2 separate regions of the Homo sapiens genome follow, and region 2 is linked to region 1. A link means that fine-mapping ties the variant in region 1 to the expression of a gene that starts in the linked region. Tissue or cell type: NK cells. Region 1 holds a variant in brackets; the other region holds the start of a gene. All regions are shown on one strand. Distances are between the middles of the regions.

Region 1 (8,000 bases):
TCCTCACTGTCTTGTTTCCATACTCCCCAATCTTTTCATGACCCATCCCCATTCCTACATTTAATCACACACATCTCAGAGTGCTAGGGCTTTATTACAAATGGAGTTGACTGCTAGAGAGGCCCTTCTCCAATCTTTCTTCTGTACCTTCTTCCCTCCCAAAGACATCCCTCTAGGGGAGGTCAGTAGGCCATTAGGTAGGAGGAAATCTGGAGAGTGAAAAGGGGCCTTGCTTTTGTCAAAGTCCTCTGAAACAACCACTGAGTCTGAAGGCTGGCTCCAGTTGAGAATCTTCTAGTGGAAGAGGTTTAGCTCTCATCTTCAAGGTCCTTCATTTCTACATCCTGGGGGGCTTTTGTCTTCTTTTGCCTTTTGAGCTGTGGTTCACTAGTCCTGGCTGGCTTTGAAGGGGCTTCCACTGAGTAAAGGGAAGAAGGAAGTATTATCCCAAATAAATCCAGGATTCCCCTCACCCACCTCTGTCCCAGCCTCACCTTCCATGGCTGTCTTCTCTTTCTGGGCAAGCCGGATCTGCTGGAGGAGTTTTCTGCGCTTCTTCCCTGACAGTGTAATGTTGGCACGTGCACTGGACCTGATGGGTAAGTGGAAATAAAGAGAGCTAGGTTAACCTGAACCAACTGAGGTCACACAAATAGTTCTGGCTATAGAAAAAGTATTAAATAGGCTGGGCGCAGTGGCTCACGCCTGTAATCCCAGCACTTTGGGAGGCCGAGGCGGCTGGATCACGAGGTCAGGAGATCGAGACCACGGTGAAACCCTGTCTCTACTAAAAATACAAAACATTAGCTGGGCGCAGTGGCGGGCGCCTGTAGTCCCAGCTACTCGGGAGGCTGCGGCAGGAGAATGGCGTGAACCCAGAAGGCGGAGCTTGCAGTGAGCCGAGATCGCGCCACTGCACTCCAGCCTGGGCGACAAAGCGAGACTCCGTCTCAAAAAAAAAAAAAAAAGGAAAAGTATTAAATAAATATAATATAAATAGTAATAGAAACCCTAAATATTTACATTGAAGAAGCTAATGAAAGGACATAGATCGGGGGCGGTGGCTTATGCCTGTAATCCCAACACTTTGGGAGGCTGAGGTGGGCGGATCACCTGAGGTCAGGAGTTCAAGACCAGCCTGGCCAACATGGTGAAACCCCGTCTCTACTAAAAATACAAAAATTAGCCGGGTGCAGTGGGGAGCACCTGTAATCCCAGCTACTCGGGAGGCTGAGGCAAGAGAATAGCTTAAACCCAGGAGGCAGGGGTTGCAGTGAGCCGAGATCATGCCACTTCACTCCAGCCTGGGCAACAGAGGGAGACTCTGTCTCAAAAAAGAGGAAAAAAAAAAAAAAAAAAAAAAAGGACACAGAAAGTAATTAATGGGATGGGAACTCTTCCTCAAGACACAGGAGGCCTTGAAACTTACAAGTGAAATCCTATGAGTGCCTTTGGGAAAATTCTTCGAGTTTTATGCGCCTATGTGTGCACTTTTCTGTATGTAAAAATAAGTTTACTTATAAAAATCTGTGTGAATGTATAACATTACTTGGAGAATGGAGAGCCAACAGATTTCCTGATATTCTTTTTTTTTTTTTTTTTTTTTTGAGACGGAGTCTCACTCTGTGGCCCAGGCTGGAGTGCAGTGGCGTGATCTCGGCTCACTGCAACCTCCGCCTCCCAGGTTCAAGCAATTCTCCTGCCTCAGCCTCCCGTGTAGCTGGGACTACAGGTGCCGGCCACAACGCCTGGCTAATTTTTGTATTTTTAGCAAAAACGGGGTTTCACCATGTTGGTCAGGCTGGTCTCGAACTCCCGACCTCAGGTGATCCGCCCACCTCAGCCCCCCAAAGTGCTGGGATTACAGGTATGAGCCACCATCCCCGGCTTTCCTGAGATTCTTAACAGAATCCAAAACCCAAAGAAAGGTTGTCTGCTACAGGTATTGTGAGAGGCTATCAGAGCTTAGGAACTAACAGCCGACAGACATTCCCCGCATAAGCGTCAGTGCACAAGGTGAGCTGAGAGGTGAAGCTGCTCCGGAGCTCTGCAGGGAGGAAGGAAGACTCGGTGGGGACGACCAACAGGAAGAGGGTCTAGTACTTACGCCCGCTTCTTGAGGTGGTGCCGCGTGATCAGCCCTTGGTCTATCACAGCCCCGACCACCCGGTGCCTCAGACGCCGCTCCCGATTCAACACCCGCCGGCGTTTGAACAGCTTCTTCTTCAGCTCCTGCCGGGGAGAAAGATGCGAATCAGATGGAGTGGGCTCGCCGCGACCCGGGGCCCCTCCACCAGGCAGCCCCGGCCCCTCACTGATCCCATCTCGTGCGAGATAAAAGGGCTCAGGAACGCTTGAGGAAACAAAGTCGCGGCCCCCACACAGTCACCGTTCGGGGCCGGTTGATCTTTCCCCCCGGAGCTCCCATAGTCGCGATTCCACTCCAGTTCACGGTCCGTACTTCCGCTCAGCGCCGGATCCGCGGGGCTCCGCCCCGGCCTTCCGCGGGCCAATCGCAACTCGGGGGCGGGTCCTCGGGCTATATAAAGGAGCTCCGCGGTGCGGGAGGCCTTTCGGAGGGTGGTGAGCTAGTAAGTGTGGTTTTAGCTGTAGTAGCCAGATTGGGCGGCCGGGAGTGGTGGGGGTGCCGGGTGGAAGGCTCTGGGCGGGGTCTCAGGACCCTCCTTTTCTTGGCGGGGATCGGGCTTGTGGTGCCGCTCCCCGTAATGTACGGAGGAAGAGGGAAAGGGCTCTGGCCCCCTCGGCGTCATGTCTTCGGTGCTGGCGGCTTCCCATCCGCTGGTTCTATCCTCAAACGCCGGGACACCGGGAATCTCGGAGAAGGACAACCGAGATCCAGCTGGCTCCTCCATCGGGGTGCTCACACTTTCTCATTTGATTTCAGGTCTGCGGACGCTGTATACCCTCCTCCACTTCCCGCTGCAGCCAATAAAGGCCGTTCCTACCATAGTCTGTGTCCGCGTTCTTTTTTCCGGGACTGCAGAGTTCGGGGAAGCTGTACGCCGCCTTTCGCTACGCGGAATTTGCAGATCTTCCCCTGGACCTCAGGCCTCTCCGGCTGGAGTAGGGTGGACGCTTCACATAAGCTTCTCTGGTCGAACTTACCCGAATCTCCAGATGGCCGCGCTGCGTCGAATGCTCCACTTGCCGAGCCTGATGATGGGGACGTGCCGCCCCTTTGCGGGTAGGGAGGTGGGGGCAGAGTGGAGAGGGCAAGGTGGGGGCAGAGTGGGGAGGGTAAGGTGGGTTCCTCGTGAGTCAGGAGTGTAGTCCCTGAAATTGTGATTCTCAAACCCTACGGTGGGCCGTGCGTGGTGGCTCACGGCTGTAATGCTAACACTTTGCCAGGCCGAGGCGGGCAGATCGCTTGGCCCAGGAGTTCGAGACCAACCTAGGGCAACATAGCGAGACCCTGTCTACAAAAAAAATTAACCGGGCACGATGGCGCCTATAGTCCTAGCTACTCAGGAGGCTGAGGTGGAGGCTTCAGTGAGCCATCATTGTGCTACTGTACTCAACCCTGGGTCACAGAGTGAGACCCTGTCTCAAAAAAAAAAAAGACGCCAGTGTGTATATACGACGTTTTTGCAGTGGCGACATAGACCAAGTGACACCCTCCAACCGTGCCCACAGGCTCACTGGCTGATAGTTGCCTGGCGGACCGCTGTCTCTGGGATCGGCTGCATGCCCAGCCTCGTTTGGGCACTGTCCCCACCTTCGACTGGTTCTTTGGATACGACGAAGTCCAGGGGCTCCTACTGCCATTGCTGCAGGAGGCACAGGCTGCCAGTCCTCTGCGAGTGCTGGATGTGGGCTGTGGGACTTCCAGCCTATGTACAGGCCTCTACACCAAATCTCCACACCCAGTGGATGTGCTGGGGGTGGACTTTTCTCCTGTGGCTGTGGCCCACATGAATAGCCTCCTGGAGGGTGGCCCAGGCCAAACACCTCTATGCCCTGGACACCCTGCCTCAAGCCTCCACTTCATGCACGCCGATGCTCAGAACCTGGGGGCTGTGGCTTCTTCAGGCTCTTTCCAACTACTGCTGGACAAAGGCACATGGGATGCTGTTGCCCGGGGAGGTCTGCCTAGGGCTTACCAGCTTCTATCAGAATGCTTGAGGGTTCTAAACCCTCAGGGGACCCTGATTCAGTTCTCAGATGAGGACCCTGATGTGCGACTGCCCTGCCTGGAACAAGGGTCCTATGGCTGGACTGTGACTGTGCAGGAGCTAGGCCCGTTCAGGGGCATCACCTACTTTGCTTACTTGATTCAAGGCTCTCATTAAA[G/C]ACATTTTAGTAGTCCTGACCCTAGTATTTCTGTGGGCAAGGAGAGGGCTGAAGAACTGTCTTTGCAAGCTATCTGGCTGCAAAGTGAGAATTTGAGTCCTGGCTTCCACATTTACTAGCTGGGTGCCATATTGCTGAATGTTTCTGTTCCCCAGTTTACTCATCTGCAGAGTGAGAATAACTTGGAGTTACGGAGATTACATACAATGATGTGCGCAATATTTAGCACAAAATGAATGCTGAAAAGAGAAGGTACAATTGGGTCATTCCCCAGTTTCAACTAACTGGAGCTCCTAAAAGCAGCAGACAGGAACTGAATCAAAACCCCTGCGCTGACTGACTTGTATAATCTAGTGGCCTAACCTGTAAGCCTCATTTTTGTCACCTGTAAAAGGAGATTGTAAGAGGATGGGTATAAGGAGCTTCATAAACCTGGATGAGATATTTGAGGGGGAGGGAACAATACTTACCCTCAAAGCTATTAGGAGGCAGGAGATGGGAATATTCCACAAAGCCACTTCTACAAACACGGGAGCCTGTTGAGTCCCAGAAGGGACAGTGGTTGGTGGCTTCCAGACATGCTGTGTCCTCAAGAATCCAACAAGCATCTTCTTCATCCTGGTCCTGCCCCCAGCTGAGTCCAGCGTTAAATGTTCTTAAAGGACTTCTAGGGTCCTGTGGGCTCCAAGCCCAGCCTGGGATGGAGGAAGAGAGGGGACAAAAATATTACTGATATATTATCAAATTACAAAACTAGGCCAGGCATGCTGGCTCATACCTATAATCACAGCACTTTGGGAGGCCAAGGTGGGCAGATTGCTTGAGCCCTGGCAATAAAGTGACACCCCTAACTCTACAAAAACAAATGAGCCCGGGATAGTGGCACAGGCATGTAGTTCCAACTACTCAGGAGGCTGAGCTGGGAGGACTGCTTGAACCCTGGGAGGTCAAAGCTGCAATGGGCCATGATAAGCTGCTGCACTTGAGCTAAAAATTAATTTCTGTGGTATTTTTTGCTTATAAAAAAATAGAGCAATTATATCACTAAGAGCCTAACCTCGCAGCCTCAATTTTCTCATTTATAAAGGGGAAGTACCTTCATTGGGTTGTTCTGAAAATCATGAAGTAAAAGTGTTTAGCATAGTACCTGGTACATAGTAAATGCTCAAAAGAATGTAGCTTCTTGGGAGGCTGAGGCGGGCAGATTGCCTGAGCTCAGGAGTTTGAGACCAGCCTGGGCAATATGGTGAAACCCCATCTCTACTAAAATACAAAAAAAATTAGTCGGGCGTGGTGGCCTGAACCTGTAGCCCCAGCTACTCAGGAGGCTGAGGCAGGAGACTTGCTTGGACCTGGGAGGCAGAGGTTGCAGTAAGCCGAGATCCTGCCACTGCACTCCGCCTGGGCAACAGAGGGTGACTCTGTCTCAAAAAAAAAAAAAAAAAAAAAAGTAGCTTCTGTAACAGTACACAGACGGGGCCGGGCGCGGTGGCTCACGCCTGTAATCCCAGCACTTTGAGAGGCCCAGGCAGGCGGATCACAAGGTAAGGAGATCCTGGCGAACAAAGTGAAACCCTGTCTCTACTAAAAATACAAAAAAATTAGCTGGGCGTGGTGGCGGGTGCCTGTAGTCCCAGCTACTCGGGAGGCTGAGGCAGGAGAATGGCACGAACCCAGGAGGCAGGGCTTGCAGTGAGCAGAGGTCATTGCCACTGCACTCCAGCCTGGGGGACAGAGCAAGACTCTGTCTCAAAAAAAAAAACCAAAACCAAAACAAACAAACAAAAAAACAGTACACAGAGATGAAAAAAGTCTAGAAGAGAAGGTATCGAATATGTAAACTATTTTTAGGTAGTTGGTCTTGGGGTAATTTTTTTTGTTTTTTGTTTTTTTTGAGGCAGAATCTGGCTCTTGCCCAGGCTGGAGTGCAGTGGTGGGATCTCAGCTTACTGCAAACTCCACATCCCGGGTTCACGCCATTCTCCTGCCTCCCGAGTAGCTGGGACTACAGGCGCCCGCCACCACGCCCGGCTAATTTTTTGTATTTTTAGTAGAGACGGGGTTTCACCATGTTAGCCAGGATGGTCTCGATCTCCTGACCTTGTGATCTGCCCGCCTCAGCCTCCCAAAGTGCTGGGATTACAGGCGTGAGCCACCGCGGCCAGCCTTAATCTGTACTTTCAAAATGTTTACATTGCTGCAGGAAAAGATAAAATTACCCCAAGACTGGCCGGCTTGGGAGGCTGAGGCAGGAGAATGGCGTGAACCCAGGAGGCGGAGCTTGCAGTGAGCTGAGATCGCGCCACTGCACTCCAGTCTGGGTGACAGAGCGAGACTCAGTCTCAAAAAAAAAAAAAAGAAGAAAAAGAAAGTACAGATTAAAGGATGGCACCCATTCTGATACCAAAACTGCTCTCTACAATTCATCAACTTTGCCAGCTGCCTTTTCTCTCCCACATCTTCACATTTATTGAGCACCTGCTGTGTGCCTGGCACTGCTGAATGCAGGGGCCGTAACTGACTTCCATCTTGGCTCTGCCCAGAACATTCAGCTCACAGTGGCCCCCTGAATGAGCCACCTCCCTCACCTGGCTCTTCACTTTGGTCTTGGAAGAAGGCCTCAGCATCCTCTTCCTCACCATCAGTGAGCAGCAGCAGCTCCTCATGGGGCAAATGGAGATCCCCACTCTCTTCATTCACCTCACTGGATTCCACCACAATAGACGGCAGATGGGACTTTTGAGAGAAATCCTGAATAGGGACAGCAGGGAGGTTGGGCCAAACTGGAGGGTAAGCCAGCTGCCAGACACAGGCTGAGGAAGTACTAACCTGAATGTGCTGGTGACCTTCAACCTTGCCAATTTTTCCTCTGTCCCAGAGAGGGTTGGGCAGCCTGGGACTTTCTGGATGCTGGGAGGAGCCTGGGCTATTTCTAGTCCAAAGCCCATCCTCCTTGCTTCTCCCTGGCACAAGGGCCATGGTGGTGATTCTTAGAGTGCAAGATGATTGAACTCAGAGGAGAGTACTGCTGCCCAGTGCACCCCACAAACTGTTCCTTTAATCTTCTTTGGAGCCTGGCCCCTTAAGCACCGACTGTGCTAAGCGATTATACGCTTTCAGGGGAGGGGAAAATGCCCAAGAGGTGAGATAGGATCTTTATTTCTACTTACTCCCTGGAGACACTGGGATGGCAACAAGGGTAGGAGACAAGGGCACCTGGATTAAAGCCCTGTGGGCCAAGAGTTGTGATAACCAACTTGGAATTTCCTGACTCCTATGCTTACTGATTTTTCCCAACCTGGTATGTTTGTATGTTATTTAATGAATATTTATATGGTGTTTACTCTTTGGCAGGAGCTGTTTTAATTGCTTTACATATAACTAATTTAATTATCCTAAAACTGTGAGACAAGTACTGTTGTTATAAGCTTCATTTTCTGATGCAGAAACCGGGGCACAAGAACTTGCCTATAATCAGTCACACAGCTAAGAGGTGTTTTCTTCTGTAAAGCAGAATTCAGTATGTTACACGAATCCAGCCTTTTAGTGGTTGAAAACAAAGCAAAACAGCCGGGCGCGGTGGCTCACACCTGTAATCCCAGCACTTTGGGAGGCCGAGGTGGGCGGATTGGGCGGATCACGAGGTCAGGAGTTCGAGACCAGCCTGACCTACATAGTGAAACTCTTTC
Region 2 (8,000 bases), 75 kb before region 1:
ACCTAAGCCATGCCTACATAACAAGAGTACAGCCTCAGAACCACAGTATGACCAAGGAACACAGCACCTCAACAGTGAACTTTTTTCAAGGGACCAAAACCTACAGGGAAGCAACACAAAAAGCACAAGCTTGTTTATCTAACACTCTCCAAAGGACAGGGTGTTCTAACCAAACAACCTTAGTACCCTCAGTGTAAGTTAATAAACTGCTAACTGGTTTATCAACCAGGTTCTTGTGGAGTTGATCCAATGGTATGTTGTTCTTTAAGCACCAACTTTCACTATAATTACTTAATTGTTTACTTTCTCCTCTAGACTATAGGCTCTGTGAGAGCAGGGACCATATCTACCCCATTCACTACTCAGAATGCAGCCCTAAGCATAGTGCCTAGTACAAAGTTAGCTGTGAATAAATATTTGGCAAAGAATTCACTGAATCAATAGATGACACACACAAAAAAATCCCCCAGTGACTAACTCTGGTGAAGTGATAAAATCCAAAGGGTGGGACTGGGAGCAGTGGCTCACGCCCGTAATCCCAGCATTTGGGGAGGTTGAGGTGCACGGATCACCTGAGGTCAGGAGTTCGAGACCAGCCTGGCCAACATGGTGAAACCCTGTCTCTACTAAAAATACAAAAATTAGCTGGGCATGGGGGCACGCGCCTGTAATCTCAGTTGCTTGGGTGGCTAAGGTGTGAGAATTGCTGGAACCCAGGAGGTAGACGTCACAGTGAGCTGAGATTGTGCCACTGCACTCAAAAATATAATAATAAAAATAAAAATTCAAGGGGTGGGGGAGGTGTGAGAAGCTCCCAAAGCTGGTCTAGCCCAAGTACTGTGATGTCCATCAAGAATAAGCCACATTAGGAACCAGCTCAAAGAGGCTGTTGGTTTCTCTCTCTTGTCTCTTTGGTACACAGCACATCTGATTCATTCTTTTTTTTCTTAAGACGGAGTCTTGCTCTGTAATCCAGGCTGGAGCACAGTGGCACGATCTCAGCTTGCTGCAACCTCCACCTCCCGGGTTCAAGCGATTCTCCTGCCTCAGCATCCCAAGTAGCTGGGACTACAGGCATGCGCCATCACACCCAGCTAATTTTTTATTTTTAGTAGAGATGGGGTTTCACCATGTTGGCCAGGCTGGTCTCAAACTCCTAACCTCAGGTAATCCGCCTGCCTCAGCCTCCCAAAGTGATGGGATTACAGGCGTGAGCCATCGCGCCCAGCACTGATTCATTCTTTAACCCGAGAGCCATTCACTTTACCTTGTCCTTGTCCATGACAACACTGGCCACAGGTCCAAATGCTAGGAAGTACTCAGAGAGCTGAGCAGAATCCACATCCCTGGGAAAGCCACTGACAAACACACTTCGAAGTCCCTGGGCCTTTCTCGCAGCTCGTAGTTCTACCAGGTGCCGGTGCTTTCTGCCTCCCAAGTGGGCATCAAGGCTGGGTCCTGCAAAGACAAGTGTGAGACAAAAACATGCAAAGCACTCTTCGACGTGTCTGCCTTTGCTCTCTGCATACCTAAATCTTACTGATCCTTCCAAGCCACAGAAACTGTGACCTTTGAATAAACAAAGTCCTGGCTCCTTTCACCTTCCTCTCTTATACATTTGTCTAAATAGTACATTCTTTTTTTTTTAATTTATTTTTTTTAAACAGAGTCTCACTGTCGCCCCCGCTGGAGTTCAGTGGCGCAGTCTCCACTCACTGCAACGTCTGCCTCCCAGGTTCAAGAAATTCTCCTGCCTCAGCCTCGTGAGTAGGTGGGACTACAGGCGTGTGTCACCACACCCGGCTAATTTTTGTATTTTTAGTAGAGACGAGGGTTCCCAGGAGAACTGGCTACACTACAAGTATTTTGTTTATTTTTACTTAAAGAACAGTGTGATAGTAAAGTATTTCTTAAACCACCTATTTGTGCTAGGTAGAGTTGGAAACAAATTAACAGGTAACTTATCCAGGTCATCTACACAAGAACTAAAAAAATTTGGATCATGGAATACTTTGTGGATCATCTTTGGACATGGTATAATATAGTGATGTCAAAGGCAGGATCTGAAATTACATTGCCCAAGTTCAAATCCCAGCTCTGTCAACCTGTGTGAGACCTTGGTCAAGTTATGAAGCCTCACTGTGCATCAACTTCCTCAGATATAAAATGGAAATATCAGTATCTAGCACCTCACACACAGGTATTATTCAGATATATCACTTGGCAGAGAGAGTCTGGTACACGGTAAATGTTGAAAAACTAACCGTTGCTATTATTTTATTGAGTTAGCTGCTTGATGTCACCAAAGTAAATGTGGGGCCAAAGAAGACTCCTAGGTTTCTGGCTTGGCTTACTGGATGAACAGTGATAGTGCCATTCACAGTGAAAAGGAAGAATGGAAGTAAACCCTGTTTAGGGAACACTGTGATTCCAGACTTCAAAAGTAGGGCTGGGCACATTGGCTCACGCCTGTAATCCCAGCACTTTGGGAGGCCAAGATGGGAAGATCGCTTGAGGCCAGGAATTGGAGACCAGCCTAGGCAACATGGTGAAAACCCATCTCTACAAAAAACTAAAAAATTTGCCAAGTAGGCCGGGCGCGGTGGCTCAGGCCTGTAATCCCGGCACTTTGGGAGGCCGAGGCGGGCGGGTCACGAGGTCAGGAGATCGAGACCATCCTGACTAACATGGTGAAACCTCGTCTCTACTAAAAAATACAAAAAATTAGCCGGGCGTGGTGGCGGGTGCCTGTAGTCCCGGCTACACGGGAGGCTGAGGCAGGAGAATGGGGTGAACCCAGGAGGTGGAGCTTGCAGTGAGCCAAGATCGTGCCACTGCACTCCAGCCTGGGTGACAGAGTGAGACTCTGTCTCAAAAAAAAAAAAAAAAGAAAAAAGAAATTAGCCAAGTATGGTGGTGCACACCTGTAGACTCAACTACTTGGGAGGCTAGCCAGGGGTATGGTTTGAGCCCGGGAGGTTGAGGCTGCAGTGAGCCAAGATCACACCACCGCACTGCAGCCTGGGTGACAGAGCAAGACCTTGTCTCAAAAAAAAAAAAAAAGTGGAATTTGAAGTTACAGTGAACCCCTTGTGTGTCATACAAGAACCTTGTCTATTTTTCCAAACCCATCTTCTGTCTCTTCCTCACTGGTACCTTATGGTCTAGTCATTCATGCCACACCTATTTCATCCATCCCCTCCTTTGAGTAGGTCCTCTGTAGGGCTTCTCTGATTTAGTTACTAATTCTCTGTGGTCCCACAGTTCTCCGAACATATCTATAAAGCATTGAAACTTTCTCATTCTCTAGACGGTGAGCTCCTTCATCTCTGAACCCCCCTCCCCCACCCTAAAGATCAGCAGAATACCAGGCACAGAGCATATGTCCAATAGATGATGGTTAAAGAAGTAATAAAACAATTAAACTTGCGTTGTGGAGATTTCATATACTGAGGAGTGTAATGTGGTGGAACTTTCCCGACTCTCCAAATCCCCTCGGACTTGCAGAGAAAAACGGAGGTGAGAGACCCTACCAATCAACTTGACAAGAACGACTGACTACCTATAACCCTAACTTTCGCCAGGATCAAAAGACGAAAGCCCGCAACCACCCCCGGGTCCCTCACTAGCCACCGCTTACGGTTGGCTGTAGTAACGTGGCAGAGGCAGCAGCGGAACCCCCCACGCGGCAGCGATTCGACATCCGAATCCACCGCCGCCATAGCGACTCTCCTGTACCGACAAAAACACAAGCACCTCTGCCACCACCGGAACCCACTTCGCCAAAGCTCAACGCGCTCGGAAGCAACTTCCGCCGATCCGATAGGAAGTGACATAAAGTCGTTCAATTGCGCGGACACACTCCTCCGGAAACCAAGCTCCTTCGACTCTGGGTTCCGTTTCTAGCCGCTGTCCAGTCCCCGCCCGTTTCAGGAAAAGCGGCGCGTTACGATGCTTATCTGCATGCGGTAAGCCGATTGGTGTGCTTTAAGCTGTTCAGACGTTGATTGGCCCAAAGCATCGTGAATATTCATGACAGCAGCCACAAAGGCCGGCGCCGGGTGGCATCTTGCGGCAGCTCCTTCACCCCGCAGTAGACACCCGTGCGTCTGTACCCTCGACCCTTATTTACCCGACGAATAAAGGCGGAGGATCGGCGGCTTCCAATTCTTTGCCCCACGGAGCCCAGGGCTGTCCCTGGACTTCCAACCTTTTCAGGGCTGTTACTCCCTCCCTCCGCCCCCTGTCCTCCCGCAAAACGGGTGTTCTGCGACGGCTTCTAGCCCTGGTTGGGGAGCTCTGCCACCACCGGGCACCTTCCGGACTCCACGAGGTCCTGGAGCCAGGCCCATTCCTTCCGCAGTAGTGGGCTGCGTGGTGTACGCCGGAGGCGCCAGAGCTACTGGCGCACCTCAGAGCAGTGCGACAAGACAAAACCGAGTGCCAGTAACTGAGTTTAGACACTGGAGGGGGCGAATGCTGTCAACCCCCTCCTGGTATAATTGTCAGTTCATCCCAACGCCGCCGAGGTGTAGGCTCAGGACAGGGAGGGACTACGGGGAGCTGGGGATGCCCTAGGGACAGGGACCATAACGAGGTGGAGAGAACTATCAGATGGGCTCAGCAGCTTGTGCTGTGGTTATCAGCCCACAGCTTTGAATGGCGCAAAGAGCAGTGGACCTAAGGCAGACACCAAGGTCTTTGACCTTGAACAAGTCACAACTGTTGAGGCCGTTTCCCATCTCTAAAGGAAGTGCCCAAGGAGCACACAGCAGGCTGAACTTCTTGTTCTCTATCCTAAGGTGTTCCTTCTAATGGGCCCAGCTCAGGCATCTAATCTCAGTGTCCCAAACCTTTAAGGCAGGAAACAGTGCTACAGTGGATCGGGATATCATCGAGACTGGCCTTGAGGATCCTGAAGCAGCAGGCTGTACACATACACCCAGAGGTGCTAGGGTGGTTCAGTGGTAGAATTCTCGTCTGCCAAATACACCACACAGCTAGGTGAGGGGATCCTCCTATAACCCCACCACCACCCCCAAGGGGGTATACATGTTACCCTGGCTGCTAGCAACTTCCAGAATTCCTTAAACAAAAGGGAGAGGGGAGTAAGAGGTGGGAAACAGAGGAAGAAACACCCCCATTCCCCTTTCCTATGGAGGCCACCAGTCATCCAGAAAGCTCATCTCAACTCCTTTGAATGAATCTGGGCCAAGATGGTTCTTGAGCTCCAGCACCACTGGGAGCTGGGGAGCAGTTTGGGTCCCACAAGAAGCCTAGCTGGAGCAAGCCGCCTGGGTCCAGGCTGCCTATCTCATAAAGCTGTTCCCAGGGCAAGAACCATCTGTACCTCCTTTGTTGTCCTTTGTCCTTTATTTTCCCTCTCAAAGACACCCCCAACACACACACAACACACACCCATGGCAAAGAACAGCTGAGCCAGGAGAAGCTGAAGAAAACAGCTTTTTATTTGTTACTATAAGAACCAATTACAGAATCCGAGGTTAAAAAAACGGACAAAAGATCTTTATTTCTGAGAACTGGCGTACAAAAGGCAGAGGGGGAGGGGAGGGAAGGAAAGAGCGAGCGTGGCCTGGGGTTGATGCCAGCTTAGGGGCCTCAAACTCCAATTAGGAAAGTCCGGACACCGGACAGAAAGAGAAACCCCCAATTAGGAAAAAAAAAAAAAAAAAAAAAAAAAAAGACATGGCAGTGCACGCCCCCCTCCCCCAACCAGGTACCACCACCTGTTATCTGTTTACTCTTCCCCTCCCCATCCCCTTTCACAAAGGGAGGCAAAATTTTTAAAAAATTAAAAAACCCTCCCCCCAAAACTGTCCAAGACATCTGTGGGTCCTACCCCCCAAAACAGGCTAGGTTCCCACATGGGCCAAGTTCCTGCAGTCTGTCCTCCATCGGCAAGCATGGAGGCATGAGACAAGTCTCGAGGTGGTAACACCAGAGGGCGCCCAACCCCTCCAGGGACACACACTCACTTGCTCTCTTCCTTAATTCACTCCTCACTCCCTTCGACACGAAAGGGAAGGGAGGTTTGGGTGCCCTGGGCATCCACCCTCTACCTCTCAGCCCACCTCCCTTCCCCACAGGTGCTCAGTCCTCCAGGACAATAGGCTCATTGGTGCTGGCAGGATGTGAGGGTGCAGGTAGAGGGACAGGGGGCCGCACTGCAATCAGCGTTGGCTTCACCTTCAGGGGCAAGTTGGGTCGGCGAGCAGCTCGCCGCATTTCCAGATGGGTCAGAGCCTTCCGTAGGGCCCTGGCCAGAAAGAGCAAGTGGGAAACAGAAAAGGCTTAGAGAACATTAAGACCTCCAGGTGAAGCCCCACACTGCAATTATGCCTTCTGGCCCATTCTTTTCTGGCATCCCCACCCTGCATCCACAACTTTCCTGGAGCTCTTGCTCTGATACTCCTACTCCCCACACTCACCAGCCTGGACTGTCCCTCTCAGCCCCTCCCATGGTAGACGCCTTACCTGGTATCCTTTGTGGCCACAAACACCACAGGATTGGGGGCATCAGCTGGGTTTAGTTTCTGACGCTTGGCTGCTGGCTGTGAGCTTGAACGAATCCCTGAAGCCAGAGGCCTTCCATTGGCAGAGAAAGGAACCCCTGCCCCTGCCATCTGGAAAAGGGGTAGGATGGCACAATGAGGGAAGGGACCCTCTCAGACTCCTATGAGAGACAAAAGCCCACCCAACTCAATCTGGCCCACCCCTTTCTGTCAACTCACAGTCTCATAGGCCCGTTTCACCATAATGCCCCCCAGTCCCCGGTTCTGGGACAGCTGGTTTCTGTTGATCGGTGTCTTGGTACCCCGAGGTGTTTTTGGTTTCAGGGGTGCCTGGGCCACTGGAAAAAAACAGAAAACTTTCGCACCTTTTCTTCCCACGCAGTTCCCCTTTGTTACTTCCATCTCTCTTCCCTGGACCAGCAGTTTACCTGGGCATCCCCAAAAGTAGCAATGGGGGAATGTTCTGGCAAGCTATCACTAGTATTTCAAATATCAGTATGACCTTATCAAATCAGTACAGTAATACTGAATAGTTTACAAAAAAAATTATTAAACAACAAAAGTACAGTTTGTTAGACTAAATCTCTGAGGACACTATGAGGAAGAAAAAAAGCAAGGGGAGAGATGTCAGACAGGGAAAGGACTGGGAGCCTGATGCCAACCTCACTGGTCCCCATCCCATACCCAGATCTTTGACGATAGTTGCCAGGGGCAGCCGCACCAGAGGGTGAATCTTCAATGGAGTCTTGGCGGCCTTAGGAAGTCGAATGGAGCCTGGAGAACAAAGAAGAAAGCTTCTGAAGGGCTTCACCATTCAGGTCTCCTCTAAGGCCAGAAGCCAACTCTAATCTTAAAAAAATTATCTGTGGCCTACTATCCCTCCTGTTATTAGACATCCAGAGAAACAACGGTCTCTGGGCAGAGCAATCCGAAACCCACCACCAGTCCCACCACTCCCTGCCCTTACACTCTGCTTTGATGGCATTGGCATTGATAGGAGCATAAGGCCGTCGGGCGGCCCTCCTTGGCTGTAATAGGTCCCTGCACATGCGTCTGGCAAGACGGGTCAGCTTTGTGGTCTGAAGCAGGAAAGTTTGTCTGTTCTTAGCCAGTAGCTTGGCCCTGTTGGCGCTGGTTGTGTAAGGAGAGAGACTTTGAGCTTCAGGTCTGGATAAATGACCCCTTGAGTGTGGCTCCTAGAAGAAGAGCATAGGAAAGAGAGAGAGCAGAAATCAGCACTGAGGCTCCCTTCTTTCTTCCATTCCCTGCAGGGGACAATTTATTCCTGTCTAATCTCTTTACTGACCTCTTGGCCTATGTGTCTCCCCAACCAGCATCAAGCACCCCGTCCATCAAACCATCACCATATAAAGAGTTGAATATTCTGGCCTTCACCTAAGCTCACCATCAATATGCTTACTGCTCTCCCCTGCTTTTCTTCCCACTGATCCTTACCGTGGTGCCCCG

Alleles and levels. Alleles are on the strand shown, and positions count from the first base shown. SD is a standard deviation of normalised expression in the study named.
With allele G in place of C in region 1, the expression in NK cells of the gene that starts at base 3,760 in region 2 is lower (large effect, 0.76 SD a copy in Gilchrist 2021).

The links. PIP is the estimated chance that this variant, and not a neighbour inherited with it, causes the effect.
Region 2: it holds the start of TUT1, and the variant in region 1 is fine-mapped to the expression of TUT1 in NK cells (Gilchrist 2021, PIP 0.95).

Annotation. Positions count from the first base shown.
Region 1 is chr11:62,662,742-62,670,741 of GRCh38, forward strand. It overlaps LBHD1 (LBH domain containing 1), which reads right to left. Exons shown (of 7, transcript NM_024099.5): 2 at 7,141-7,300; 3 at 6,900-7,062; 4 at 4,782-5,006; 5 at 2,108-2,232; 6 at 495-592; 7 at 76-418. The coding sequence starts at 7,290. The coding sequence ends at 388. It overlaps C11orf98 (chromosome 11 open reading frame 98), which reads right to left and starts at 2,469. Exons shown (of 4, transcript NM_001286086.2): 1 at 2,390-2,469; 2 at 2,108-2,232; 3 at 495-592; 4 at 76-418. The coding sequence starts at 2,428. The coding sequence ends at 309. CSKMT (citrate synthase lysine methyltransferase) reads left to right here and starts at 2,571. Exons shown (of 3, transcript NM_001043229.2): 1 at 2,571-2,591; 2 at 2,906-3,205; 3 at 3,655-5,367. The coding sequence starts at 3,139. The coding sequence ends at 4,310. SNORA57 (small nucleolar RNA, H/ACA box 57) reads left to right here and starts at 2,681; the gene lies at 2,681-2,829. RefSeq lists enhancers at 2,689-2,918, 3,589-3,698, 3,749-3,798, 3,819-3,918, 7,616-8,000. The variant G/C (reference allele first, on the strand shown) is at 4,312.
Region 2 is chr11:62,587,764-62,595,763 of GRCh38, forward strand. TUT1 (terminal uridylyl transferase 1, U6 snRNA-specific) reads right to left here and starts at 3,760. Exons shown (of 9, transcript NM_022830.3): 1 at 3,641-3,760; 2 at 1,268-1,458. The coding sequence starts at 3,722. It overlaps MTA2 (metastasis associated 1 family member 2), which reads right to left. Exons shown (of 18, transcript NM_004739.4): 13 at 7,989-8,000; 14 at 7,501-7,729; 15 at 7,218-7,307; 16 at 6,753-6,871; 17 at 6,496-6,644; 18 at 5,451-6,277. The coding sequence ends at 6,112. RefSeq lists enhancers at 3,570-4,265, 3,682-3,911.